Regions from separate parts of the Homo sapiens genome. Here all the other regions are linked to region 6. Evidence: fine-mapped expression QTL. A gene starts in region 6. Each other region holds a variant in brackets. All regions are shown on one strand. Distances are between the middles of the regions.

Region 1 (4,070 bases), 82 kb before region 6:
CCTGAACAGGAAAGCTGAGAAAACAAGACTGAGCAAGAGAGAGCTTCAGACGATGATGCTGAAGACACATTCCCTGCCAGACCAGCCAAAAGACCTGGAGCAAAGATTGTACATTGCAAGGGTCTCACATTGGATAGCAATGGCTAATCCCTTACACTACTGCCTTTTTCAGCCACTGACTAGAGTCACCTCTTCAAAGCAGAAGCTAATCCTTATGAAGCTAAAAGCTGAAGATTACCAGCTAGCCACCCGCCTTGGGTCTTGGCGGGAAGTTCTTTCTTTTTTATTTTATAATTTTTTAGAAAATACAGATGGGTTTTTGCTATGTTGACCAGGCTGGTCTTAAACTCCTGACCTCAAGTGATTCTCTTATCTCAGCATCCCAAAGTGTTGGGATTTCAGGCATGAGTCACCACAACTGGCCAGCAAATTATTTCTTTATTTTAAAATTTTTTGAGGTAAAACATCCATATAAAATGCACCATATTTGCCATTTTTAAGTGTACAGTTCAGTGGTGCTCTTAAAACAGTCTTTAAATGTAAGAATACATTTATATTCTTTCCTTTTCCCTTCATCCCGCTTCCTGCTACCCTTCCCACCCTCTGGTAACCACAAGTCTACTTTCTATCTTAATGAGATCCACTTTTTTAGCTCCCACATATAAGTGACAACATGTGATGTTTGTCTTTCTGTGCCCGGCTTATTTCATTTAATAAAATGACATCCAGTTCTATCCATGTAACTGCAAGTGATAGCATTGTATTTTTTTATGGCTAAATAATATTCAATTGTGTATATATGCCACATTTTCTTTATCCATTCATTCACTAATGAGCACTTAGGCTGATTCCATATCTGGGCTACTGTGAATAGTGTTGCAGTAAACATAACAGTGCAGATATCTCTTCGATATATTGATTTCCTTTCCTTTGGATATATATCAAGTGGTAGAATTGCAGGATCATATGGTAGCTCTATTTTTAGTTTTTGGGAGGAACCACCACACTGTTCTCCATAGTGGTTGTACTAATTTACATTCCCACCAACAGTGTATGAGGGTTCAACTTTCTCTACATCCTCTCCAGCATCTGTTAATACCTGTCTTTGATACAAGCCATTTTAATTCTAATGAGATGATATCATCGTGGCTTTGATTTGCACTTTTCTGATGATTAGTGATATTGAGAATTTTTCATATATCTGTTGGCCAGTTTTATGTATTCTTTTGAGAAATGTCCATTCAGATATTTTGCCCTTTGTTTAATTGGATTATTTGTTTTTTTGCTATTGAATTGTTTGGACTCCTTATAAATTCTGCGTATTAATCCTTTGTGAGAAGGATAGTTTGCAAATGTTTTCTTCCATTTAGCAGGTTGTCCTTCCACTTTGTTGATTGTTTCTTTTGCTGTGAAGAAGCTTTTTAGCCTGATTTGATCTCATTTGTCTATTTTTGCTTTGGTTGCTTGTGCTTTTGAGGTCCTTCACAAAAGTTATTTGCCTAGGCCAGTGTCCCAGAGGATTTCTCAATGTTTTCTTCTAGCAGTGTCATAGTTTCAGCTCTTAGCTTTAAGTCTTATATCCATTTTGATTTGACTTTTTTGTGTGGTGAGGGAGATAGGGTGTAGTTTCATTCCTCTGCATATAGTTATCTAGTTTTTCTAGCACCATTTATTGAAATGACTCTCCTTTACCCATTGCATGTTCTTGGCACCTTTGTTGCAAATGAGTTGGCTGCAATGCATGAATTCATATCTAGTTTCTCTATTATGTTCTATTGGTCTATGTATCTGTTTATATAACATTACCATGCTGTTTTGGTTACTACAGATTTGAAGTAAATTTGGATGTCAGGTGGTGTCATATTTTCATATTTCCAGCTCAATTCTCTTTGTGCAAGGTTGCCTTGGCTATTCAGTCTTGTGGTTCCATATATTTTAGGATTTTAAGGGGCCAAGATGAGATCTCCAACAAATGTGTCTACAACTTAGGCAAGGCAGAAGTTCTGCACATACCCCTTGGAAGGGTGGTAGAATCCAGGGAGCCAAGCA[G/A]CATTGTTCTGCAGGCCCCACTTCCACAGCACTTCAAAAGATAAGACACACTGCCTTGGAATTCCAACCAGCCACCAGCAACAGGGTGGAGACTGCCTGAGACCTAATGGAGCCACAGGGGGGAGGGGCAGGCACCATCTTTGCTCTTTGGTCAACTCAGCTGTTCCAGCCTGTGGGCTTTGGAAAGTCCAAATAGTCCAGATGAGGAAAGTGCAGCACAGCAGCTTTGCCAGATTTTGGCCAGACTGCGTCTTAAAGCAGGCCCAATCCATTCCTCCTCACTGGACAGGGCCTCCCAGTCAGGCCCTCCAGCCACCCCCCCACACACATATTACAGATAGAGCTCTGATCTCTCCCAGGGATGGAGTGCCCAGGAGAGGGGGAAGGGCCACTGCCTGAGTTGGTTGTACGACTATGTCTCAGCCATTCCAACCGACAGGCATTGGAGAGTCCAAGCCGACACAGGCAGAGGCGGTTCTCCAGCATGACAGAGTTGTTGTGTCAAGATGTGGTCAGACTGCTTCTTTAAGTAGGACCATAATCCGCTACTCCTTGTGGCGGGTCCTCCCAGCTGGGTCTTCCCAGCCAGGGCCTCTGGCCACCCCTGCCTGTGTTCTAGGGGGCCAAAAAAGCTCTAATTTCTCCCTGGGACAGAGTACCGGAGAAGCAAGGCAGGCCACCAACTTGGCTGTTCAGGCTTCTCAGCCCACTCAGCCTGTGGGCCCTGGAGAGCCCAAACCAATTGAGGGCTGAACGTTATCCTCAACACAGCACAGCTGCTCTACCAAAAAGCAGCCAGACTACTTCTTTAAGCAAATCCCTGATCTCATTCCTCCTGAATGGATGAGACCTCCCAACTGAGGTCTCCAGCCACCTCCTACAGGAGCATTGGGGCGGGAAATAGGTCTGTAACCCCCGGGACAGAGCTTTCATAGGAAGGAGCAGGCTGCCATCTTTGCTGTTTCACAGCCTTCACTGGTGATACCTCCATGTACAGGAAAAACTGAGGCAATTAGGGACTACAGCGGATCCCCAGCAAACTACAGCAGCCCTATGGGAGAGTGGCCTGACTATAAAAAGAAAAACAAACAAACAGAAAACAGCAACAACAACAAAACTCAACAAAAAACCCCATCCAAAGGTCAGCAACCTCAAAGATCAAAGGTAGATAAGCCCACAAAGATGAGAGAGAATCAATGCAAAAATGCTGGAATACAAAAAGCCAGAGTTCCCCTTTTCCTCCAAATGACCACAACACCTCTCCAGCATGTGCTCAGAACCGGGGTAAGGGTGAGATGACCAAATTGAGAGAAGTAGGCTTCAGAAGGCAGGTAATAACAAACTTCACTGAGCTAAAGAAGCATGTTATAACCCAGTGCAAGAAAGCTAAATAGAGGAGCTGACAGCCAAAATGGCCAGTCTACAGAGAAGCATAACCAACCTGTTAGAGCTGAAAAACACACTACAAGAACTTCACAATAAAATCACAGGTATTAATAGCATAATAAAACAAGCAGAAGAAAGAATTTCAGGTCTTGAAGACTATCTATCCGAAATAAGACAGGCAGACAAGAATAGGAGAAAGAGAATGAAAAGGAACGAACAAAACTTCTGAGAAATATGGGATGATGTAAAGACACCAAATCTAAGACTGATTGGGGTACCTGAAAGAAATGGGGAGAATGGAACCAAGTTGGAAAACATACTTCAGGATATCATTCAGCAGAACTTCTCCAACCTAACAAGAGGGCCAACATTCAAATTCAGGAAATCCAGAGAACCCCAGTAAGATAATCCATGAGAAGATCAACCCCAAGACACATAATCATCAGATTCTCCAAGGTCAAAATGAAAGGAACAATGTTAAGGGCAGCCAGAGAGAAAGGCCATGTCACCTGCAAAGGGAAGTCCATCAGATTAACAGCAGAAACCCTACAAGCTAGAAGAGATTGGAGGCCAAAATTCACATTCTTAAAGAAAAGAATTTTCAAAACGGAATTTTATATTCAACAAAAGTAAGC
Region 2 (4,070 bases), 260 kb before region 6:
CATGGCAAAACCCTGAGTACTAAAAATACAAAAATTAGCCGGGCATGGTTGGATATGACTGTAATCCCAGCTACTTGGGAGGCTGAGGCATGGGAATCGTTTGAACCTGGGAGGCAGAGGTTGCAATGAGCCAAGATCATGCCACTATACTCCAGCCTGGGTGACTGAGCAAGACCCTGTCTAAAACAACAACAACAACAAAAAAAAAAAAACACCAAACCTATCATTTAAGACTCTTTTGACTCTTTCACCTTATTTTCATCATTTATAAAATATGGAAAGTAATAGCAGCTTACCAGAGGGTTACCAGGAGAATTATGTGAATGTGCATGAAGCTTAATGCCTGATATATGATAAACACTAAGGAAACGCCATGCATTGCTACTATTTCTGTCTAAGAGATCTGAACTGGAAAATAGTTTAATACATAGACTTGTTTTAAATAAAACTTTAAAATAGATGTTAGGACAAAAAACTCCTCCAAGTAGTCAAGTTTCAAAAAAAAAAAAAAAACTGTCTACTCAGCAGTTCTTTCATGAAGGATACACACTAGTCATTGGAAAGAGACCTTGTCTGCTTTCAGGAACTGACTTTGGGCCTTCTGTTAAGAAAACTGGGAGGGATAGCATTAGGAGATATACCTAATGTTAAATGACAAGTTGATGGGTGCAGCACACCAACATGGCACATGTATACATATGTAACTAACCTGCACGTTGTGCCCATGTACCCTAAAACTTAAAGTATAAAAAAAAAAAACAACTGAATAATGCTGGCCTTTGCTAAGAAATTTGATAGGTTTGTAACACGCCCTTAAAATTAAAGTATATGACCTCTACAAAGGTGGAGAGTTTAAAAATTACATGTCATCGCCCCCCAACTTTTTTTTTTTAAAGCACTACCATTGACCAATTAGAAAAAGCACCCTTTCCTCCAGGCTGGATTTCAGCAGTCCCCCCACCCCCACCCTCTCCATTACTCCCTCATTTTCCACCTTTATGCAGGTTATAATTTGCTCAACTATAAACAGCATTCTTGAAATTATTTAAAGCCTGTGGGGGTATATCATGGATCACAATACGAAAATAAATTAGTGACAAAGAGTTGGGGCCAGACTGTCTAGAGAAACATACTGAACATCAAAAGAGGAGCTCAAAGGCCAGCTGAACTGGAAAAAAAAAAGGGAGCCATAAAACTGGAGAAAATGCCAGAAGGAGCTTTAACTAGGGTGAAGCCTGAGTCAAAACATTAAGAAGAAGAAGCAAAGTGCAAGATAGTACACTGACATTTATTAATATAATTGCCTGGCTAAGGCATGTGGGATAGTGAGAAGAAAGTCTTATTTATTTTGGATACAGCTATTGCAATGTGAAGAAATTTTAAAACACTTTTATACTTGAATCAAAGGACTTGGAAATCTAAGATGAATTAGCAATGGTTAGCTCTGCCCATTTGTGTGTACGTTGTTGGCTACTTGTGTTTGGAAGGAACACTGATATTTCACATTCATTGCAATAAAATATAGTAAATTTCTATTGTGGTCCAGCTGTTGCATAGCTTTGTTAAAGAGTGACACTTAGGCTAATGTACTCTAAGGAAATGACTCCGCTCCCAGTGGAATCTCTCTTCTGAAACAATAAATGCCTGTTCCAACAAAAGAGCACCTTAAACTATGATTCCATTCCAAAGTTGTAAAAAAATGGAATTAATTAGGATTTAGCAAGTGTACAACCTCTAGCCAGGAGTCATATATTCTAATTTTGAGATATTATTCATAGTTCTCAATGCAGAGAGTTACTACACATTATTTTTACTATCAGTACAATACCACTTTTTAAAAGGGTTCAGATGTTTTAATCACTATTACACAAGTACTACAAATGATATAATTAGTTGCATTCTTATTTGCAGAATATTTAATTGATCTCTATTCAGATAAATTTTTAAATGACAAAATGCTATTTAACTGTCTTATTTTCAGACCTCCTGTCATCAGAGCTTAGCTACTCTCTTTCAAAACCATTACTATTCTCCTTCACAACCTAGCACTAAAACTGGTTGCACTGCATTAGAACTCTGCTTAGGTACTTCCTATGCAAGTTTTCTCCTTCATCTCACAACCAAAACCTAAATGAACAATCAAAACATTCTCACATTTTTCTAATTCTCCAAAAGTTTCCTTTTCTTTCAAGGTAATTTATGTCCTCATAAAAGCTTAGGTATAATTCCTGATGGGAGAAATTAGTGAAATATTTCAACAGTATTCAAGTTGGTCTCAGGGACTGGGAAATAATGCAAAAGAAATAAAAAAAATCCTTTATTAAACGTAAAAGGGAAGAAGAAAAGACTAACACATGAAATAATTAGAAAACAATTAATTTAAAAATTACTGCACAATATTTAAACTAATTCACTTTAAGTTCTGATTATTAATTGCACTATGGGTTATAATCACCTTTTTTGTGCTTATAATCATTCCCACCTAGTACAATGGTACTACACTAGTAGTACCACACTAAAGGTACTACACTCTACCACTGTACTAA[C/A]CAATGGTAAAAACTACACTTATATTTTCTATTTTTTTCTATCACTTGTATAATGCTAGGCAGAAAGTCAGCAAGCAATGGATAATTGATTATGTATTCATTCAATCATTTTAAAGCATTTTTCATTTTAATCTTTGTTGCAAAGAAGAAAAATGTATTAATAATTTTTACTTTTAATAAATACATTAGCATTAACTTTATACAGTTTTAAAACACTCATAAACTTAATTAAGCTTTTAATTCAGTTATAAATAGGACTCATTCACTGTATTCTCAACAGTAGCATTAAAAAAACCAGGTGCCTATTTCATATTCTTAATGAAGCAATTGCTAGCAATAGGAAAACCTCAAAAGATTCACATTTGGCTCAACTAAGTTCCTTGAAAATTAATTACATATAATCATTTAAAACAGCACAAAATTGAGCAGAAGAAAAAAAATTTTTGGAAGAATGTTTGTAATATCCATAAATGTTTAGGCTAGTTTGGCTGGTTTCTGATTAACTGCATTTGGACATATCTTCATTGAAAGTTTCACTGTAACATACTCACAGAAAGCTTTTTATCTGCAAGTGACTTTTTGTGCCACTTGCTTGGGCCACTTTTTCCCAACTCTAATTTGCAATTTGTATCTACCCTGAGAGAGGTACTGTCTATCAGGGTATATAGTACCATACTCAAACAGATTTGTTCCGTTATCTAAACTAGAAATAAATAAATCATAAAATGTTATGTGTCACTAACAAGGTAACAACTTGAATGCTTATGTATATATTGAGCATCAATTATGTACCCAGCACTGTGATAGTGTTTTTAAAACCCCCTAAGAGAGGAGCCAAGATGGCCGAATAGGAACAGCTCCGGTCTACAGCTCCCAGCGTGAGCGACGCAGAAGACGGTGATTTCTGCATTTCCATCTGAGGTACCGGGTTCATCTCACTAGGGAGTGCCAGACAGTGGGCGCAGGCCAGTGTGTGTGCGCACCGTGCACGAGCCGAAGCAGGGCGAGGCATTGCCTCACCTGGGAAGCGCAAGGGGTCAGGGAGTTCCCTTTCCGAGTCAAAGAAAGGGGTGACGGTCGCACCTGGAAAATCGGGTCACTCCCACCCGAATATTGCGCTTTTCAGACCGGCTTAAGAAACGGCGCACCACGAGACTATATCCCACACCTGGCTCGGAGGGTCCTACGCCCACGGAATCTCGCTGATTGCTAGCACAGCAGTCTGAGATCAAACTGCAAGGCGGCAACGAGGCTGGGGGAGGGGCGCCCGCCATTGCCCAGGCTTGCTTAGGTAAACAAAGCAGCCGGGAAGCTCGAACTGGGTGGAGCCCACCACAGCTCAAGGAGGCCTGCCTGCCTCTGTAGGCTCCACCTCTGGGGGCAGGGCACAGACAAACAAAAAGACAGCAGTAACCTCTGCAGACTTAAGTGTCCCTGTCTGACAGCTTTGAAGAGAGCAGTGGTTCTCCCAGCACGCAGCTGGAGATCTGAGAACGGGCAGACAGACTGCCTCCTCAAGTGGGT
Region 3 (4,070 bases), 38 kb before region 6:
TTGATGCTGTGCCATCTGAAATTGTGGCAGTTCCTCAGGCCTCTGTTCCACATGCACGGTCTCCTCTAAAGGAATAATAAAGAGAGTTATTATTCCTTCTGCTTAAGTGGGAGCACATGTTTGCAGTTGCAGTTTCCTGCCAGTGTAGTTCTGGAAGCTCAATATCTTTCTCTCATGTTGTCCTTTCTCTATTCCTTTCAGTCCAAGCTAGGAGTGTTCCTGCTGATATGACATTCTCAATAAATTTGTGGATCTCCTGTGTATGTCACAAGGGTCTATGGCATTAGACAAGAGAGTCCTCCATAGATCTTTCCTGGATAACCCCATCTCTATCCCTGGCTTCCACTGAGATGGCTGAGTGGATCCATTAATCACACACCTAAGTGCATCAATAAAAGTTTATCCAACCATTTCCTTGGCGTCTTCTACATTGCACACTTTCCTGACAGTGACTTTCCTCATTTTAGCAGGCTTTACAATCTGGATAGACCAATAACCTCCTGATTTATCAAGTGCAAATTCCTTTTTGCTTAACTTTCTTACTTTATTTCTTTCCTACTGCTTTTTACTAAGCAGGAAAAAAAATAGGCCGCACCTTCAATGCTTTATTTGGAAATCATTTTAGCTACCCATCAAATTTTATTGTTTCTAATCTCTGTTTTCTCCTCAACTACAGAAGACAATACAGCCAAGTTTTCTGCCACTATATAACAATTCCTCAGTTATGTATAAAGTGTTTTCAATCTCGATAACATGTTCCTCATTTCCTGACTCCTTAACAGAATTGCCTGTAACATTCCGATTTCTACCCACAGTCTCTTCAAGGCAATCTAGGGTGTTTTGTTTTGTTTTTTATTATGTACCCTAATTTCCTCCAGCCTCTACCCATTAACCAATTGTTATATAATCACACTAATTATGACCTCTGAATATTGGCGCCTAGGTTGTTTACTTCTTCACAGCAGGCAAGGACCCATTAATTTATAAGCATAATAGGGCCAAACTCAAATTTTCGTATATCTCATTGTTTTAAATATTCCACAAATAAGCATATTTTAGATGTTTAGAGCCTGTTTGCTTTGCATGCCTCATGGAAGTGCACACAGCATCTGCTAGCCATAGGATAAACTCCAAATCTGTAAAGATCCCAAACTGCTGCTATGCTCTGGAACCCTCTCACCTAGAGAATCTCTTGTGGGCTACTTAGAGTGACATCATGTAGACACATAAGTTCTGTCTCCTAAGCCCTCTCCCACAGAAGTACTCTGTCTTCTTTCCCTTCAGAGTGGTGGCCCCCACACCATAGCCTCTGGACAGTCTCATGCAGTGAGAGACTTCTAATATACAAATCTGTCAAGGCATTGTCCTGATAAAGCCTGCATGTGGTACTGCCACCCCATGCCCATATCTTTTATCACCCCATAAATATCTTGAATTTCCCACAAGTGGCAATGAGAATAGGATATCCACTTCCATATTTTTAGACATTTGTTGCCACCTTCCAGTACTACAGTGTTTTGTTTAGAATGTTGCTTTAAATAAAAACAACAGTGTGTAACTTCTTCAGATTATCTTCTTTCACTCAGCTTAATTCTTTTGAGATGCATCCAAGAATTGTATA[C/T]GAGACCAGTTTCTTTCTTTTTCTTGCTGAGTAGAAAGTATTCCATTATATGTATATACCGAAGTGGTTTATCAATTCATCCACTGAGGATGTTATGCTGGTTTTCAGTTTTTAGAAATTACAAATACAGCTGCTGTGAATGTTAGTTAATAAGATTTTGTGAATATGTTTCATTTCTCTAGGGTAAATACCAAAAATATGGGATTGCTTGGTTATGTAAGTGTATGTTTAACTTTTTTTTAAATTGCTAACCTATTCCAGACTTCCTGAACCATGATCTAATCACCTCCCACCAGTCCTGACCTCCAACAGTCAGGATCACAATTCAACATGAGATTTGGGTGGGAACACAGAACCAAACCATATCACTAGGTATGATCCATTCTGGGAAAAAATAGTTGTCTTTCTATGGACATGTAAAACAAGAAAGCAAGTTATCTGAATCCAAAACACAATGGTGGGACAGGCACAGACATTAAATATAGACAGTATAAACTTTTTCATTCCAAAAGGGAAAAATTGGAAGGGATAAAGAGTCACCAGTTCCAATTAATTTTGAAGTAGGGGACAATTTTGTTCAGTTTCAAGGCCTGTGTAACTCCCATAAAGAATGTATGAGAGTTAAAATTTCTCTGCATCCTCATCAGCAATAGGTATTTTCAATATTCTTAAATTTAACTATTCAATATTGAAAATTATGTGGTTTCAATTTTCATATCTACAATGATGAAAAATAGTAGATATCCTTTTGTGTGGTTATTTGTATCCATATATCCTCACTGTTGAGTATCTGTTCAAATCATTTACCTATATTTTAATTGAGCTTTTTATTTTCTTACTGTTGAATTTTGAGGGTTCTTTTTCTATTTTGGACAGAAGTCCTTTGTTGGATATATACGTTGAAAATATTTTATCCTAGTACATAGCTTATCTTTTCATTTTCTTAACAGTGTCCTTCCGAGAGCAAAAAGTTTTAAATTTTTATTAAAATCCAATTTATCTTTTTTATAAATGAATAACACTTATGATATCATGTCTGATAACTCTTTGATATCTTGCCTAACCCCAATTCATGTGTTCTTCTAAAAGCTTTATAGTTTTAGGTTTTACATTTAGATCTATTATCTACTTTGCATTAATAGTGATACAGCCTTTCCGCGCTACCTACAGAAGGGTCCATACAGCTTTGTTGTGAATTCCCGTCGTAACTTAAAGGGAAACTTTCACAATGTCTGGAGCCCTTGATGTCCTGCAAATGAAGGAGGATGTCCTTAAATTCCTTGCAGCAGGAACCCACTTACGTGGCGCCAATCTTGACTTCCAAATGGAACAGTACATCTATAAAAGGAAAAGTGATGTGATCTACATCATAAATCTGAAGAGGACCTGGGAGAAGCTTCTGCTGGCAGCTCGTGCCATTGTTGCCATTGAAAACCCTGCTGATGTCAGTGTTATATCCTCCAGGAATACTGGCTAGAGGGCCAAGCTGACGTTTGCTGCTGCCACTGGAGCCACTCCAATTGCTGGCCGCTTCACTCCTGAAACCTTCACTAACCAGATACAGGCAGCCTTCCGGGAGCCATGACTTCCTGTGGTTACTGACCCCAGGACTGACCACCAGCCTCTCACGGAGACATCTTATCTTAACCTACCTACCATTGCTCTGTGTAACACAGATACTCCTCTGCGCTATGTGGACATTGCCATTCCATGCAACAACAAGGGAGCTGACTCAGTGGGTTTGATGTGACGGATACTGGTCCGGGAAGTTCTGCCTATGCGTGGCACCATTTCCCATACACACCCATGGGAGGTCATGCCTGATCTCTACTTCTACAGAGATTCTGTAGATTGAAAAAGAAGAGCAGGCTGCTGCTGAAAACGCTGTGACTAAGGAGGATTTTCAAGGTGAATGGACTGCTCCAGCTCCTGAGTTCACTGCTACTCAGTCTGAGGTTGCAGACTGGTCTAAAGATGTGCAGGTGCACTCTGTGCCTATTCAGCAGTTCCCTACTGAAGACTGGAGCGCTTGGCCTGCCACAAAAGACTGGTCTGCAGCTCCCACCACTCAGGCCACTGAATGCGTAGGAGCAACCACTGAATGGTCTTAAGCTGTTCTTGCACAGGCTCTTAAGCAACATGGAAATAACGTTGACGAAAAATAAATATCAGTTTCTAAAAACAAACAAAAAAAAAGATATAGGTGTAAAGTTTAATTTTTCCTTTTGTTATGTTTTGTTTGCATGTGGGTGTTCAATTGTTCCAACACCATTTATTTTTTCAAAGAAACCAAACCTGTTCTTTCTCTATTTACTTATTTTGCACCTTTGCCAAAAATCAAATAGTTATACCTATATGGATTTACTTCTTGATTGTTTATCCTGTTCCAAGACTACTCTAGACTGATGTATGAGTCTGTTTCTTTGCTAATACCACATTTTCTTGATTA
Region 4 (4,070 bases), 350 kb before region 6:
ATGTAAACAAGTGACTATTAGGGAATCTAAGGTCATGGTAAGCCAAAGTAAAAGAATTTCTGGAACATGAAAATATTAATCATGTTGATGCAGTATACTTCTACACAGGGATGTGGGAAACTTTCCTTGTTTATTACATCAGGAGTTGGCCCAATTAAGTTATGTTTGAAACCTTTAGAAAAGTACCTAATGAGGGCATTTAATTCTCATTATTTCTAATTCTAAGCCTGGAAATTATCATAATATCTAGATCTAAAGAGTTCAAAACATGATGTATCCAAGTCTGGAAAGATTTCAATCTGACCCTCCCATTTATGTCATCGGGATGCGTGCAAGAAGAGCCAAAGACAATGCTTGGCTGCCCTTTACACAAAGGGAAGTCTCCCTGCTATGGAAGATAGACACTGACACATGTCATTTCTGATTTTAAAACACTTTCCACTCATCTCTGAGCATTTCTCAAAAAGCTTGAGAATCTGGTGCCGTAAAACATAGCAAACAAGATGAATTCAGAATTCACAAACATTGTTTTCAACTTCCTCTGCTTGGCATATTTTTTTGAGCATTTCACAGTGGGATACACGCTTCCAGGTTTTCTTTGAATAAACAAATTTTAAAACCTCAAAACTCTGTGTTGACATTAGTTTTAAAGGTTAGATGAAGTATATGATTGCAAATATGATTGCAAATAACAAACTTTAGTTATTGAGATTTTCAGATTTGTCACAATTCAAATATTTTATCATGCCTGAAAGTTAAAACTGAACATTTTTAGAGTTTGAGATAAGTTTTCCAAAAGCTCCCCATTATCTATAACTCCCTTACTAACTAAATTTGAAGGGTGCTGACATTTTTTGTTTTCTCAAATTAGATAGTAGTGATAACTGTGAAATTAATAACAGAAGTTAAATGCTATCATAAACATAAAACTTATTTTAAAATTAGTGTGTCCTTGACCCACTAGAAGAGAGGCTATCATTATTTAAATGATATTCATTTGAATGAATTATGATGATGATAAAGATTATTATAGGTAGCACTTACTGAGGACTTTCTATGTCACAAGCACTTTGCTAAGTATTTTACATATATTATTCTATTTAATTCTCAAACAACTGTGTGAAGTAGATTCTGATATCATCTCTATTTTGTAGGTGTGATGACTCAGGCACAGAGAGATTAAAAATTTTCACAATAACACCCAGCTTGTGAATTATAAAGCAGCAATGAAATTCATTTAAAGAGCCAAAATAGAGGGGAAAAATTGCCTCATGTATCTCTGAGATATGTGTTAGTCATTGGTTATTTCAATATAGAGGAATAAGATAAAATTACATGATAACAACTGAAACATACTTTCATTTTGTATTACGGATACATCAACAGTTCTAAAGGATCATTTTTTTAAAAAATGAGATTTTAAAAAAATGAGTGACAATGTGAAGAGTGACACTGAACCATTGAAAGAACCCTTAAAATATGGATTTCAATGATTAAAACACAATGGGAATGTATGTATTTTCTCAGGACTTTATGCCCTATTGTTGTATCAAGAGTATCTGTTCTTAGGCTTTGGTAAACATGTGTGTCATCACATAACCAAATGCTAAAACATATACAAAACTTTAAGCCTTGTTTACAAAAGTTTTTTGCCCTGCAATGTGGTCACATCACTCAAACTTGCATTTTGTTGTTGTTTTTCTTTCTCCTCACACTGACATTGTGTTTGATAAAAGTAACCTCAGGATCCTTAAGTTTACTTGGTAAAAAGAGGATTTCTAGACCCTCTATAGAATCCTTGGGGATTTTTTCAGCCATCCCTTCCCAGCTGTTCCCTCTCCACATGGCTGTGTTCCGAGAAAATGATGCAAGGCTGTGAAATGGGGCTATGCTTGGGATCCAGCTGACAGGAAGGCATGCCGGGAAGGTCACAGCAACTTCCATGTAAACAGAGCTGTGGTTTGCCTGGCTCTAAGTTAACAGGATAAGAGGTTCTCCTCACAGAAGGGGGCACACAGACAAACAGCACCCAGCATGTTCTGTTCCAGATGTTCTTCCTGTCATTTATGGCATATGAGGAGGTGCCTTTGATGTTTCCCTCCTTTCTTGTCAGTATGATTCCACGAGCTTCATTATAAATTATTTTACCAAGGGATGAGTCGTATTGTATTATAATCAGAGCAGGCCCTGAGCACAATTACAAACCAAACCAGATTCATCCACTGAAGCCTCTTCCCTTTTGACGTTTTCAATCATCATCTTTTCCTTTTCTATTAGATTTTGAATATCCTTAAGTGGCACTCATCTGATGTTAAAGTGTCACGCCTTGTGCCATGCCTCAGCCTGATGTTCCTCATGACAGTGTTCTAAATCTTATCCCAACCAAAATTCACTTGTGCATTGCCCCTTCCTCCTTGTTCTATCATCACAAAATCTGTG[G/A]TATTTAATTGGTATGTAGTTTCAATAAGAACTGATGAGCTGACTAGGTTCAAATGTTGGGAAGGCCATCTAGAAATTATCGATTATGCCAAAAAGCAAAGCTAAGAGAGAGACTTCCAAGCCATACTTGATACTGGAGAAGACTGTATTTGCAACTATTTCAAGTTTCTGCTATTCCTTGGCCATCAATGCCTTCTTCACATTGTGGTTATGTCATTATATATTTTCACTCCTGTAGGAGAAGACTTAAAACATTTTTTTAAAATTCTTAAGTTATTGTCTCTTTATTGCACTGCAATTTTGTCTGTTGCTTAGAATTTGTGATGGAAAGAAATTCCCAGCACCTTGTAATCCAGGTCTTAGCCTTTCCAGTCTATCCAGATTGCTCAGTTAAACCCCAGCTATAAGCCTACCTCCAACTTTTTCTTTACCAAAATAAAAAACTAAATAAGGGCTGGTAAGGGTAAAGGGATTACTGAAAAGAGAAACAAATCCTATTCCCTTCAAAATTCTTGGACTTTTTTAAAGTATGATTTTAATTAATAATCTGACTGGCTCTAAGGTAGTGTTCTACATTAGCCAGAGATTATCAGTTATTTTTATGGAAAAAAAATTATTAGGCTCAGTATCTTAGCCCAGGGGAAAAAGTATAGAACCTGGAGTCAGAAAAAAAAAAAAGATATTTAATTCTCAGCTTTGCCACTTTCATCTATGTGGGCTTGATCCTGTTAGTTACCTCTATAGGTCTCAGTTTTCCTGCTGGTAAAACAGGTAAAATAAAATCTACTCATCAGGATTGCTACAAAATTAAAATAAATTCTATGATATGTTACACATAAGGATCTTTGTTTATTAGCACATACTTAATTTTAAAAAAAGAAACACAGAAAAGAGAAAATAAACAATAAACAACCAGGCTGAAACAAATATATGGCCTTAAATGTTCTCTGGTGAATGGCATGTCTTACAGTGTGCATCCCCTTTAGGGCTGTATGATCCATCAAGAATAAAAGACCGTCACTCTGATGTAATATTCGAAAACTTCTGTGATCCAATCTCTAGCCTCTTTCCTGCCTCTTCTTCCAAAGCTTTATTCTTTCACTCTAAAGTTGTGTCATTCACACTAAACTGCCTTGATTTGCTGAATTCCCCTGCCAAATCACATCTCATTACTTTTCCATAAGCCAGTCCTTCTACCTAGAAAATATTTTTCCATCTTAATCTCCTGAAGAAGAAGCTAAGACCCAACTTCTTTCTGAAGCTTTATCTTCCTTCCCAACTCACACATGCACACGCGCGCACACACACACACACACACACACTAAATACATATACACTGCCTCACTCTTTCATTTGTGCCCATGCTATACCACAAAGATTCTAAAATTGAGGTTAAGCCTGTGTGGATTGCATGAATGACCTGCAGGAAATCTAAACCCTCTTGCGATTGTATGTAATATTTTCTTGGTGAGTACCAGTGCACATTTTGTTTTTCCTGGAAATAGGATTTGCAGCTGTGATCATATTCTCAGTAGGGTCTCTGATCCAAGAGAATGTAAAAGCCACTGTCACACCTTTACAATGGAAATCATTACTGTATGGCAATAATGCTTGCTGAGATCAAGTGTTAT
Region 5 (4,070 bases), 320 kb before region 6:
TGTATCTTAGGAACAGAAATTTTAATTGACTGAAACCCACTGTGTGAAACTTAGAATGGAAATTGGGTTCTCCACCTCCGCAGCACCTTTATTTTGGGCTATGAAGCTTTGGAAGGACAGCAGGGAATACAAACTGGCTATGGGTTGTCTTCTATATTATTCATTTATGTACCAAAAAAAAAAAAAAAGGCAGAAGAAGAAAAAAAGAAAAACAAAAACCTTCCCAGTTCCAAGGGAGTCAGACAAAAGGTAAGAGCACTGCTAGAGAGGAGACTTGTTCTTGTTGGCTTGTGAAGTAAAGAGACCTTTTCTATATTTTGTAATAAAAGCAAGAGCAATTGTGATCTGTCATCTCCAGGAAGTTTGTCACCTGTGAGATTTTTATTAGCCATCTTTACAGTGTTATTCAATTCTATGTATAGATCTCTTTGAGGGCAGGGACTGTGTCCTCTTCATTCCCCAAACCGGCACAGTGCCTGTCGTTTGTAGGTTCTCAATAAATATTTGTGAAATGAATATCAGATGAATGAGTGAAATGATGAACCCACAGTTCTATATATTTCAAAACCTCAAAATATGTAGGCACAGTATATTATAGTATAGAAAGGATAAAATGTTTTGCAGGAAAAGAACTAAGAAATCAACAGACTCATTGTCCTGATTTTTAAAAATAAGAGAAATGAGGCTTCCAGAAAGTTAAAATGTTATATTGACTAGAAAAGGAGTAATGAAATCCCAAGATTTTGAAAAATATATACACAGTATGTGTGAATTCCACATTGTTTCAATGATATCTGCACTACCTGGCTCTCTCTTGACTTCCAACTCATTTCTGGGTTCTCCCCATGTACATTTATTTTCTCAAAAAATGCAAACTACTTTAGAATTAGCTTAAGTAAAACCTTATTAGGTAAATCATATGCTGGAATGGATTCCAAAGATACATTTAAAAACTCCTTTCATACAGCAATTTCTTAAGACTGATGGTATTATAGTCAATGAGCCACCTTGTTTGAACTGTCTAGGTCAGACTAAAGAAGAACCAAATTTAGAAGATTTCCAAATGAATTTAGTGGTGATGTGGTGATGTTATAAATTAGCCAGGCAATCAGATGTAAAATGCTAAGTTTAGATAACCATCACCATATGTCAAGCAGACAGTGATTACCGGGCAATGTGCATAGGAGAAAGCAGAAGGAGTGGTAGGCCCAATTCTTCATTGTGTAGTCTCCATGTGCACAGCAGCAGCCTCACAAGAAGAGGAACAGTGGTCACTTTGTAGTGTCACTTGAGGGGTCTTCACCCTAAACCATCTTCCCAAATAACTTCCTCAGATGCCGGAAATTTTATTTCAACACAAATAGCCCTGGAAGAAATTCTATGCTGATTGTCTTTTAGGTAGAAAGACTCACAGCCGTGGCAGTAGATAAGGGTTCTAATATAGGTGTCATTACCACTTTCTAGCTGCACAATCTAGGGCAAGTTAACCAACACTTTCAACCTTAGTGCTTTGGATGTTTCTAAATCCATAAAATAGAGATTTGAAGTCCTACCTCTCAAAGTCCTCTCAAAGTCATTGCAAGGCTTACACTAGACACCATATGCAAAGGGTTACAAAGTTGGTGCTTAAGGAAAAGAAAGGGGCATGAGTGGGGAGATGACAATTAGCTTAGCTTGATGGTCAAGCCTCCCATGATTAGATTATCAAATTCAAATCTTGAATTCTGTGTAATTTTGCACAAGCAACGTACCTTCTCTGTGCCTTTGTTTCTTCATCTGTAAATAAGGAATAATAATGGTACATATACCGAAACTTATTATATAAGGTCAGTAATATCATAGTGGTAATGTGCTAATATTTGGGCTCAGTAAATTGAGCCCTTAACAGCAGAAATGCAGCAGGTATGAGTATTTCAGGAGACAAAGAGGAAGCATACCCAAAACACAGGGAGATATAAAGGGGCCTTAAAAAGAAATGTAAATGGATATCAAGAAGATAGTGCTTATTCAAATATTTATCCAGGTCTGTGTAGGCCTCATCTTTCTTTATTTTCCTGCATCTCTCTAAAAACGCTATAAACTATTCAGTCTGTTGTCTTGGACTTATTCATTGTAATCTGTTAGGTTTGATTTTGAATTTATAACTAGTATTCAACCACTGGCCTGTATTTACAATTAACAAGTAAAGCATAAAAGAATTGCATCCCCACCCTTCCCAGAGAGACTATAAAGCCGAACAGCCCTTCCCTTAACAATGAGGCTAAACAGATGAGGCTTGC[C/G]CTATGGCCTAAAGTTTAGCATTCCCAGGCTGCACCAGAAAAACAACAGAAATGAGCTCCAAAACCGAAGATTCCCCACCCTTCTAGCAGATTTCAAACTTTAGGCCTAACGAAGGCAATGTGTTCTACCAATGGGGGTAGTCATGCCTCATCACAGATTTCAGTCTTAAGGTCAGAATTTTCTGACAGTTATTGGGTAATTGTTTGGACTGAAAAAGTAAGAAGTATCCAGTCATTGAGCTAGGTCCATGCTCCTGGTAGAGTGAAATACTGTTGTTATTCGAGTCCAATCCTCTGTGTCTGGGCCCAACATGGGCTCCCAAGTGAGTCAGATTAAATTACAGACTTCAATTCTGAGCCCTTTAGTATTTCAGTCAGACTATAAGGCATAATTACTCCTTATTTTTGCTTATTTTTGCATTTCCCCCTTTATGCTCCTCATCACATTGTACTAGTAAATGTATTTTTTATTTATATATCTTATGAATAGTAAAATGTACAGAGCTTACATGTAAAAGTTTTAAGAATTCTAACAAATGGAACATCTGTGTAACCAACACTAAATCAAGGTATAGATTTCCTTTACCATTGAAAGATCTCTTTCCAATCAATACTTCCTAACCCTCATCACTCCCTAAAACTTTTTTTTAGTTTTTATCCCTATAGATTAGTTTTTATTCCTATAGATTAGTTTTTATTATGCTTGAACTTCTTATAAATACAATGATACCATCTGTGTTTTTATGCCTATTTTCATCTGTTCAGCATATTTTTGTTATTCATCTATGATGTTGAATGTATCAGGAGTTTTATTACTGAGTAATTTTCCATCAAGTGAATATAATACAACTTGGTGTCTATGCTTCTGTTGATGGACATTTGATTGCTTCCCGTTATTGGCCATTGTGAAAAAAGCTACTGTGGGAACGTGTGCACAAATTTTTAGTGGACTCTTGTTTTCAATGTTGGGTAAATACCTAGGAGTGAAATTGATGAACTATAGAGTAAGTATATGTTTATCTTTATTAGGATCTACTAAAATGTTTTTCAAAGCTATTTTAGATACCTCATATAAGCCAGTCATTTTTATTTGAACAATTCTAGTGGGTGTATGGTGGTACCTCTTTCTTGTTTTAAATCATGTTTCCCTGATGACTAATGATGCTGAGCATCTTCTCATGTGCTTATTGACCATTCATATATCTTTTTTGTGAAGTATTCATTTACTTGCTTTTGTGGATCATATTGCATTATTTTGTATCATAATTGTAATGCATATTGTACTATATTGTATTAGGTTGGTGCAAAATTAATTGCTGTTTTTGTCATTACTTTCAACAGCAAAAACTGCAATTAATTTTGTACTAACCTAATGTATTCAATTGTATTGTATATTTAATTAACAATTAATACATTATCTTATACATGTTTGTCCTGTCTAAAAACTCTGTGCCCACCCCCAGGCCATGATGATATTTCCCTGTTGTTATTTCTATAAGCTTTGTAGTTTCACATTTTACAGTTAGGTCTATGATTATCTCTGATTCACTTTTTGTGTATGCTGTGAGGCAGGAGTCAAAGTTGCTCCAACACCCTTCATCAAAAATATTGTCTTCCCTCGTGAGTTTATTTTTCAATTCCATGCTTCCTCAATTGTGAGCTCCTTTGTGGTACATCTATGATTGATTTATCCTTATAATCTTAGAGTACAGCATAGTGTCTCTGTTACATGGGAGCGTCGTAAATGGACACTGAATGAATACATTTTCTACGAGCTGAAAGAAAGCTAGG
Region 6 (4,070 bases):
CAGCAATTCGGAATTTGCCTGGGGTACTAACCAGAAAAGAGAAGGAAATACACACACACACACACACACACACACAGAGAGAGAGAGAGAGAGAGAGAGAGAGAGAACAAGGAAGAACATGAACTTCATGGGAAAGTCCTTGCACTTGTTTCTCCTCAGCAAAATCCTCCCCTGGCCTCCTGGGACTGCAGTCACCAGGCTGTCAAAGCCTCAATACCCCACTGAGTTCCAGAGAAGGGTCTCAAAGCTGGGAGAGGATCAAACTAACATGGTAAGCTGCTCTTTGCCAACTCCCCAAATACATTATTTCAACACTAGGAAAAACAACAACGAGGCTGTCTCCTTACGTTGTGGTTCTGCCTCCTCCACTTTAGCTAGCTACACAATCCGATTTATCCTAATGCTGACAGATTGCCCACTTCAAAGTAGTGGTGGTGTGTGTGGGGCTGAAGGAGTTGAGAAACTGTCTATACCACTCAAAGGCCTTTCTTCCTTTAGGAGTAGAGAATTGAACTGTGAAAAAGAAGCCCGAGATTCCCCAGCGACGTGGTGTTGCAGCCCCGTTGAAGGAGTCAACTTGCAGGCTGTTAAAGACCTCAAGTCATTAGCATCAGCTGCTGCACTAAAGGGGCAAGTCAGCGCCTCTAAGTGGCTTAGCGCACAAACGAGGCTCCCGAGACGGCCTCGGCAACTCCATCCCCTCCTCCACCACCCGCTGGATGTGAAAAGCTTTCCGGAGCCCATCTTGGTAATCATTTTTATTTTTAATCACCCTTGCCCCCCAACCCCAAGACCTCAGAGTGCCAACAGTACCCATTATAGACTCCCTCTGGGGCTGCGCAGAACGCACCAAGCAGAGGGGGGGAAAAACCCCACGAAAACAAAAACAAACAAAAAAAAAACAGGAACTGTTTGAGTCCAGTAACCTGCGCTCTTCCCACCAACCTCCCACACCCCACCTCCGCCCACGTACCCGTGTCCTGGGACTAGGAGGTACCGTTATGTCCCCTTCCGAGGTCTGGTGACATTCTCACTCCAACCTCATCTCCCAAGCCACGGGAAGGCTGAGCCAAGTTCTCACCAAAGCGCATCCTTTCTGAATTTTGCAGGGGGAAGCTTGGTAGTGTTGGCGCTCCTGAAGAGAGACGACGCCCGTTTATCACCCCCAGGCAACTAGCTGCGCAAATCAGCGGTGGCTCCAGGGCTAGAGAATCCCTGGAGCTAACCGCACCCCTCTCCCTTTCACGGAACGCGGACTCCGGGGAAATACGCACGGGGTCCGCACGCGCTGGGTGTCCAGCTCTCTGTCACAGCTTCTCCAAGTGCCTAGTGAAACGGGGAAAGGCCCTCTCCAATCATTTTGGTACCTTCCTTTCCAATCCTGAAACGATTTTCCCCTCCTAGCAGTCCCAGAGGGCCCGAGCTTTAGGAGGAGGCGGGCCGGGACGCTCTCTGAGAGGCGTTGCCACCCGGGGTAGGCGCTCAGGATCTGCGGGGCGCGGGCAGGCCGGGGGAAAAAGCTGCGAGGCAGGCGGCGCCGGAGGGAGCGCCTGGCCCAGCAAAGAGTTAAAGGGAGGGGACGTGGGCTGTCACGCGTCATTGGGCAGATTATGTGCAGCAAACAAAAAGTGTGTGTCTGCGTGCCAGTCAGTCACTGCATCGGGTCCATCTGTACAACTCTCTCCGTTTCTCCGTCTCTCTCCCTCCCTCCCTCCCTCCACCCCCCCAATCTTTTTCTCCCCATCTCTCCATCTCTCTCTTATCTCTTCAGGAAGAGCCTAAAAGGCGGCAACACCAACACCTCTTGACATGGAAATACACTGATACAATAGGCAAAAGGAAACACTCGATTGCATCTTCCCGGTTCCAGGTGGCCTTATTTGGGAGATTCTATACTGACCTTATTCCTGGTAAGTCTATTTGCATTGATGTGGGAGGGGGATGGGAGGAAGACAGTTTGGTGGAAAGAGTAGAACATTTTGTCTTCCGTCTCCTTATTATCCAGAAGAGAGAGAAAAATAATTCTTGAGGGGCTGTCTACTGCCAGTAATATTGTACAAAAGGAGGAGCGGGTGGTGAGCACTTTGCCGGAGAAGCCGGAGACTGGGGAGCGCGCGGCCGCCAGACAATGCCTGCCTAGAGGGACGGGCCAGTGGCGGGCAGCAGCGACCGGCTTTCAGAAAGCCCCGCCGGCTCTGGGGTATATTCCCAGGGCAGGCGGATAAGAACCTGGGCCTAGAGCGGGGCACGGAGCTGTGAAACGTTGCGTGGCAAAGGCGACCGCACGCGGGCGGGCGCTCCTAGGCTCTTGCCCAGCGGTTATTGTGATGGGCTTGAGGCTCGTGGCGCCTGGCGCTGCGACTCCGACCGCTATTAGCGCGGCGTAGTGAGGACCTTTTTGCCGTATTGTTAGGTAGAACTGCATTTTAATGACTGTGTCCCTGCTGTTGCCCGAAGTGACGGGGCGACCTCCCGGCACAATGAAATGCTTGTGTGAAAGAGATTTTTAAAAGGAAGAGAGAAATTGGGGAATAAAACGCTGAATTGAAGGAAATTGAAAAGAGGAGAATAGGATTCCGTTGAAAAGGAGATAAGAGGTTATGGGGTTTTTAAAATGTATTTTAATTTGAAATGAAAAAATCAGGATGTCTACCTTGTATGGGGTAAAAATGACCAGGGATAGATGATGCAGAATAAAAAAGTTTCTACTTTATGGATATTTTCCCTTATTTCTGCTGTCTGGGAGATACAGCCCAACACTTGACATTTGGGGGATGCAAGAGGATGAATGGAAAATGAGGCTAACCAAAGTTTTAGGCTATGTTAGCTGGAATGGGGGGAAAAAAGCACACCTTGTAATCACACGTGTAAGGTTAACTGGTTAATATAAATTAAAATAAAAATAGATGTCACTGACATTATTCCATAATGAACAGCTTTGCAGGAAAAGAATTAGATCTACTCTTTCCTGCTACTTTAATTATATAAAACATACATAAATAATTGCCAACAGTGACATTATTAGGGAACAACAAACTTGGAGGAATATTTTGATTAGTCTGAAATACTAAGCAATGCAGCTAGTTCAAAGCTAGTTTAAAAATTTAAATACCTGGGTTTTTTTGGGTTTTTTTTTTTTTGTTTTTTTTTTTTTTTTTTTTTTTTAGTGATAAGTCTTGTATGGGGTGTCCAGAGGAAGGAAAATGTCCCTTTATGACACCTTAATAAAGGGCATTGGGGCATTACTTTCTAAATTGCTGCGGATTAAACAGCTGGGGAGCCCACTGAGGAGTGCTCAAGCAGGGCTGCCCCCTCTTGCCCAAAAAGGGTCATATGGGGTAGGGGGAGTGAAAATTTACCAGTCATTACACACAGTATTTCAGACTGGGGACACTTTAGGCCTGTCCTGTACCTGCTCACTTCATGAGCCACATGTGACTCAATCCACCCCCTTGTATAACAAGGTAACCGGGATTCACTCTCATCCATAAATAAGCACGTCCAGAAAAAAAAATTACCTCTGCTTGCTGCTTTTAATTAAAGCCTCAGAGGAACAGTGTTGGATTATGGTAATGAGCAGACATACGTCCCTTCTTGTAGGCTGCAGAGAAAGGTTAGCTGACACAGAATTAGTGGCCCTGACATTCCACTTGAAATCCATTCGCCATGCTCCGCTGTCTCCGCCTGCTCACTAACGCTGTTCCCCTCCTTGGAAGAAAAGAAAAAAATCAGCTCCCGGGCACCCAGTTCAATACATAGGCAGACAGGCACTTTCCCCCAAGGGTTAGAAGTTTCTTTCAGTAAGGGAAGTCTATAGGCTGGTTTAAAAAATTATATATATGTATATATATATATATGTGTGTGTGTGTGTGTGTGTGTGTGTGTACATATATATATAATTCTGCCTGGAACTTCACCTCTAAAACCTACCCAATCCAACATCAAGGTAATGCAAAAATTATCTAGTCTTTCCTAGCCCTTTCTTTTCTTTCTCCCAAGCAGTCAGCTCCAGATCTCCCACTATTCTAATTATTTTAACAAGTATCCCTTAGTTTTCATCTTTAAAATAT
Region 7 (4,070 bases), 24 kb before region 6:
AATCATAGGTGTATCCAAAATGTTCTTCATGTGCTGAGTCAGTTTCAGGGTAGGGGGTCACAGGATTGGTTAAGTCAGTTCCCTGGTATGAGTCACAGATCCAGGTGGCATCAACTGGTCAGCCAAAGTGCAAAAGTCTGAAAAATACCTCAAAGACCAATATTGGGTTTTGACAATACCGTTGGTATCTATAAGAGCAATTAAAGAACTTACAAATCTTGTCATCTTCGGAACTGTGGCTGGTTATCATTTAACTACATCTACATCTTACCAGAATTCATTCCCCACTCATAATCCTAAGCTTTTGGCCTTTCATTAGTCCTACAAAGGTGGTTTCAGTCCCCAGAGGGGGTCAGTTTTTGGGGGAGACTATTATCCTTTATTTAAAGTTAAACTATAAGCTAAATTCCTTCCACAATTAGCTTCGCCTACACCCAGGAATGAGCAAACACAGTTAGCTTGTTAAGTTAGAAGTATGGCAGTGTCAGCTAGGTTACATTTCTCTCACTGTCATAATTTTTGCAAAGGTAGTTTCATTCTCAATGCACCACACCCAAGGTAGAACTTCCTTTTTACAAGAAAGTGTTGGGTGGGAGAAGGAAGCTTCCTCCTCCCAGTTGTATTCACCTAAGACTTAGCCTTAGCAACAGACAGCTACGGGCAGGACCAAAAAAGCTCAAGTTATGTCCTATTGCAATGAAAGCCCTGCAGCTGACACCTAAGGAATATAAAGAGTCATATTCTTGGCTGCAGCGTCTGGAGTAGAGTCTCTGCCTCACTGAGCTGGGAGGGGCAAGGAAAGTAGTAGTTTCAGTTCAAATGTCACAGACTCACCTCTCTTGACAGATATTCATAATTTCCTCTAATAGGTATTTCTTTATTTACCATTTGCCCTTAGGACCATTTCCAGAGAATTTAAGTGGTTGTTTCTTTACACACAATTTTCACCAGTTTCACTGAGGAGTGGCTCAGCAGAGTTTCCCACACTGCCATTCTAGAAGTCAATCTATTTCACTTGTATTTATTGTTCAGCTATATATGTTACTTACAAGACTCTTCTTTGCTTTCCACTCCTAATTTTCTGTTTTCCTATAGCTAACTCTGTCTCTCTCCTTTGAAACACTGACTTCCAACTTTATATCAGTCCTCTCAAGTTTTCAAACTCTTAGTTTCTATGAGATTTAGAAATCGGGCTTTTGTTTGTGCTGATGTTTACAGTGAATATTCAAGACTCTGATATTGGCTATAATTTTTTTTTAGAGTTAAAGTCTTCCTTTGTTGCTCAGGCTGGATTGCAGTGGCACAATTTTAACTTACTGTGGCCTTGAACTCCCAGGCTCATGCAATTCTCCCACCTCAGCTTCCTCAGTAGCTGGGACTACAGGAACGTGCCACCACAATCAGATAATTTGATTTATTTATTTATTGCAGAGACAGAATATTGCTATGTTGCCCAACCTGATCCTGAGCTCTTGGTCGCAAGTTATCCTCCCAGCTCAGTCTCCTAAAGCACTGAGATTGCAGGCATGAGCCATGACAACCGGCCTTGAGTATAATTTTAATCTAAGGCTTCAGGAAAGAGAGCATGCTTCTCCACCACTGTCCTCTTCCATTTTTTTGTCTGTGGGTTAGTTCAGGTTCAGGAGGAAGAGACAGGGATGGCAAAGTTGGAAAGAGAAAATGTTACTTCATTCTAAAATCTACACAGTTTGTGAATTCAAGGGAAGCCATTAGTAGGAGTTCCTATTGCTGTGCAGCTGATTTGTTTTGAGGTAGTCACCCTTTGTTGAAGCCTGGCTGGCTTCCTTGAAAACAATCAGCAAGTGACTAACCAGGCATAGTAAGACTGGTGCTGACACAGGAAACCACCAAATGATGAGAGACCTGG[G/C]GATGCCCAAAGGAAGTCAATAAAAGCATACTCTCAAATTCTTCCAGATTTTGGCTTGCAAAGCCTCCCAAGACTTCTGGAAATCCTTCCTAAATGCTACTAGGAATGTTCCAGCCAAAGGGCTCTGAGAAATGATTCTTTAAAATCTTGGATGCTTAAGTTTACAAAACCCAGTAAGTTTTTACTTCCAGTTGAAACTGTGCATGAAAAAGATGTTTTCAGAAAGAGTTCTCAGATAATTCTATTTGTGAATAATAGTAGTAATGTAATGGTTATTCTCCATTTGTCTCTCCAAAATCCATTCTCTGTCCTCTCCTGGCTCTATATTGCCAGAGGCTGACTCATGCAGATTCGTTAGCATGCTCCAGAACCTTGCTGGTTAGTTAGCTTCCGGTTGAGTTAGGCCATTGGAAGGCATTAACATGAAATTGGAGCATGTGAGAAAAGAAAAGATGAGTTATTTCTTCCCTGTCCTCTCCTTGCTACACCATTGTCTCTGTGTCAGTAGCTGTTTCTGTAGGTCTCACACTGGGCCCTTCTTCCAAGGTTCTGGTCCTTAGCAGACTGTAGAAACACTAATTCCTCTCCTAAAATCTTCTTGTTATGCTGGTTTCTGTGTCCCTCACTCTCTCGTTTGTTCTCATCACCTGGTCCACATCTTTGTAGCACTCCCTTACCTGAGGATGGGGCAATTATTTCCAAGACCACCAGTGGATGGCTAAAATCACAGATAATACCAAATGCTGTATATACTATGTTTTCTCTGATACATACATACCTCTGAAAATAATTGATTTATAAATTAGACACTGCAAGAGATGAACAATAAGATAAAATAGAACACATATAACAATATACTGTGCACTCCCCTATATATACACATGTACATATATTATATATATACATATAAAGGGGAATTTGTTAAGTATTAACTTACACAATCACAAGGTGTCACAATAGGCTGTCTGCAAGCTGAGGAGCCAGGAGAGCTAGTCCAAGTCCCAAAACTGAAGAATTTTGAGTCTGATGATAGAGGGCAGGAACCATCCAGCATGGGAGAAAGATGTAGGCTGGGAGGCTGGGCCAGTCTCTCCTTTTCACATTTTTCTGCTTCCTTTATATTTGCTGGCAGCTGATTAGATTGTGCCCACCAGATTAAGGGTGGATCTGCTTTCCCCAGCCCACTGACTCAAATGTTAATCTCTACTGGCAACACCCTCACAGACACACCCAGGATCAATACTTTGTATCCTTCAATCCAGTCAAGTTGACACTCAGTATTAACTATCACAACTCCACCCCTTGTCAACTTGAACCCATATATATCTCCTGAGATCATACATAATCTTCAAATAAAGACAATAATAAGGTCATAATTACACTTAAAATAATACAACTATCTTTCGTACAACCGGAAATGCACCAATACCCCCATCCAAATACTATTACATAAAGTTAACAATACTTAAATGCTGATATGAAGTCAATTAATCTTATGTCACATGATAAAGGAAAAGGAAATAAAATGAGGATAATTTCTCAGTACAAGTGTATACATGCACAAACATGTTTTTAACAAAAGAAGGAGGAAATACTCATGACAGTTACAGTCCTCATTTCTGCAGCTGGTCAAGTGGTCATAGCTGGTATTTATGACTACCTTCTCCTACTGCCCATTCTGTATTCCCTTTACCTTCAGCAAGCACCTCAGCAGGTCATGTTTTTTTTCCTGGTGGAGTGACCCAAACCTTCCTTCCTGAGGGGTCTGGACCATTTGTAGTTCTGCCTGGATTGGGCTGTTGTACTTTCCCATTGACCTTAATCACAGGGCATGGTAATACTAAGAGACACCCTAATGGATCACCTGTATTCCGTGCATATTCTTTCCTTACCTCCGTTGTGGAGTAGTAGACTGATTTCATCTTGATAGTCTGGATCAATAACCCCAGCCAACACTATAACTCCCTTCTTAGTCTGTTGACTTAAAGGTAAGAGGACCCCAAAGTGTTCAGATGGAAATCTTAACTTCTAGTTTAATGGAATTGTTGTTGTGTCTCCTGGTGGCAGCGTTCCTCCCTCTGGAACTAAGACCTTTAGGTCTGCAGAACGTGAGGTTATGGGAACAGGAAGCAAAACTTTTGCTAGTGGATAACTAGAGGTGATGGTGAGTGGTGCCACTTCC

Alleles and levels. Alleles are on the strand shown, and positions count from the first base shown. SD is a standard deviation of normalised expression in the study named. Not every link is listed here.
For the expression in left ventricle of the gene that starts at base 1,650 in region 6, allele G in region 4 goes with a higher level than allele A (small effect, 0.22 SD a copy in GTEx).

Evidence for each region. PIP is the estimated chance that this variant, and not a neighbour inherited with it, causes the effect.
Region 1: its variant is the best candidate, but not a certain one, in a credible set for the expression of PRDM8 in whole blood (TOPMed, PIP 0.72).
Region 2: its variant is the best candidate, but not a certain one, in a credible set for the expression of PRDM8 in whole blood (INTERVAL, PIP 0.54).
Region 3: its variant is the best candidate, but not a certain one, in a credible set for the expression of PRDM8 in lung (TOPMed, PIP 0.56).
Region 4: its variant is the best candidate, but not a certain one, in a credible set for the expression of PRDM8 in left ventricle (GTEx, PIP 0.63).
Region 5: its variant is the best candidate, but not a certain one, in a credible set for the expression of PRDM8 in thyroid (GTEx, PIP 0.52).
Region 7: its variant is the best candidate, but not a certain one, in a credible set for the expression of PRDM8 in blood mononuclear cells (TOPMed, PIP 0.70).

The regions. Positions count from the first base shown.
Region 1 is chr4:80,113,409-80,117,478 of GRCh38, forward strand. No RefSeq gene overlaps it. Among named protein-coding and RNA genes, the nearest start is that of ANTXR2, 42 kb to the left of the region's middle. The variant G/A (reference allele first, on the strand shown) is at 2,050.
Region 2 is chr4:79,934,344-79,938,413 of GRCh38, forward strand. All of the region lies in intron 16 of ANTXR2 (ANTXR cell adhesion molecule 2), which reads right to left. Among named protein-coding and RNA genes, the nearest start is that of PCAT4, 110 kb to the left of the region's middle. RefSeq lists an enhancer at 3,654-4,070. The variant C/A (reference allele first, on the strand shown) is at 2,547.
Region 3 is chr4:80,158,280-80,162,349 of GRCh38, forward strand. It overlaps the pseudogene RPSAP39. Among named protein-coding and RNA genes, the nearest start is that of PRDM8-AS1, 37 kb to the right of the region's middle. The variant C/T (reference allele first, on the strand shown) is at 1,622.
Region 4 is chr4:79,850,511-79,854,580 of GRCh38, forward strand. All of the region lies in intron 1 of PCAT4 (prostate cancer associated transcript 4), which reads left to right. Among named protein-coding and RNA genes, the nearest start is that of PCAT4, 25 kb to the left of the region's middle. The variant G/A (reference allele first, on the strand shown) is at 2,440.
Region 5 is chr4:79,873,240-79,877,309 of GRCh38, forward strand. No RefSeq gene overlaps it. Among named protein-coding and RNA genes, the nearest start is that of PCAT4, 48 kb to the left of the region's middle. The variant C/G (reference allele first, on the strand shown) is at 2,280.
Region 6 is chr4:80,195,854-80,199,923 of GRCh38, forward strand. PRDM8 (PR/SET domain 8) reads left to right here and starts at 1,650. Exons shown (of 4, transcript NM_001099403.2): 1 at 1,650-1,910. It overlaps PRDM8-AS1 (PRDM8 antisense RNA 1), which reads right to left and starts at 1,491. Exons shown (of 6, transcript NR_183912.1): 1 at 1,275-1,491; 2 at 974-1,135. RefSeq lists enhancers at 260-877, 878-1,493.
Region 7 is chr4:80,171,756-80,175,825 of GRCh38, forward strand. No RefSeq gene overlaps it. Among named protein-coding and RNA genes, the nearest start is that of PRDM8-AS1, 24 kb to the right of the region's middle. The variant G/C (reference allele first, on the strand shown) is at 1,889.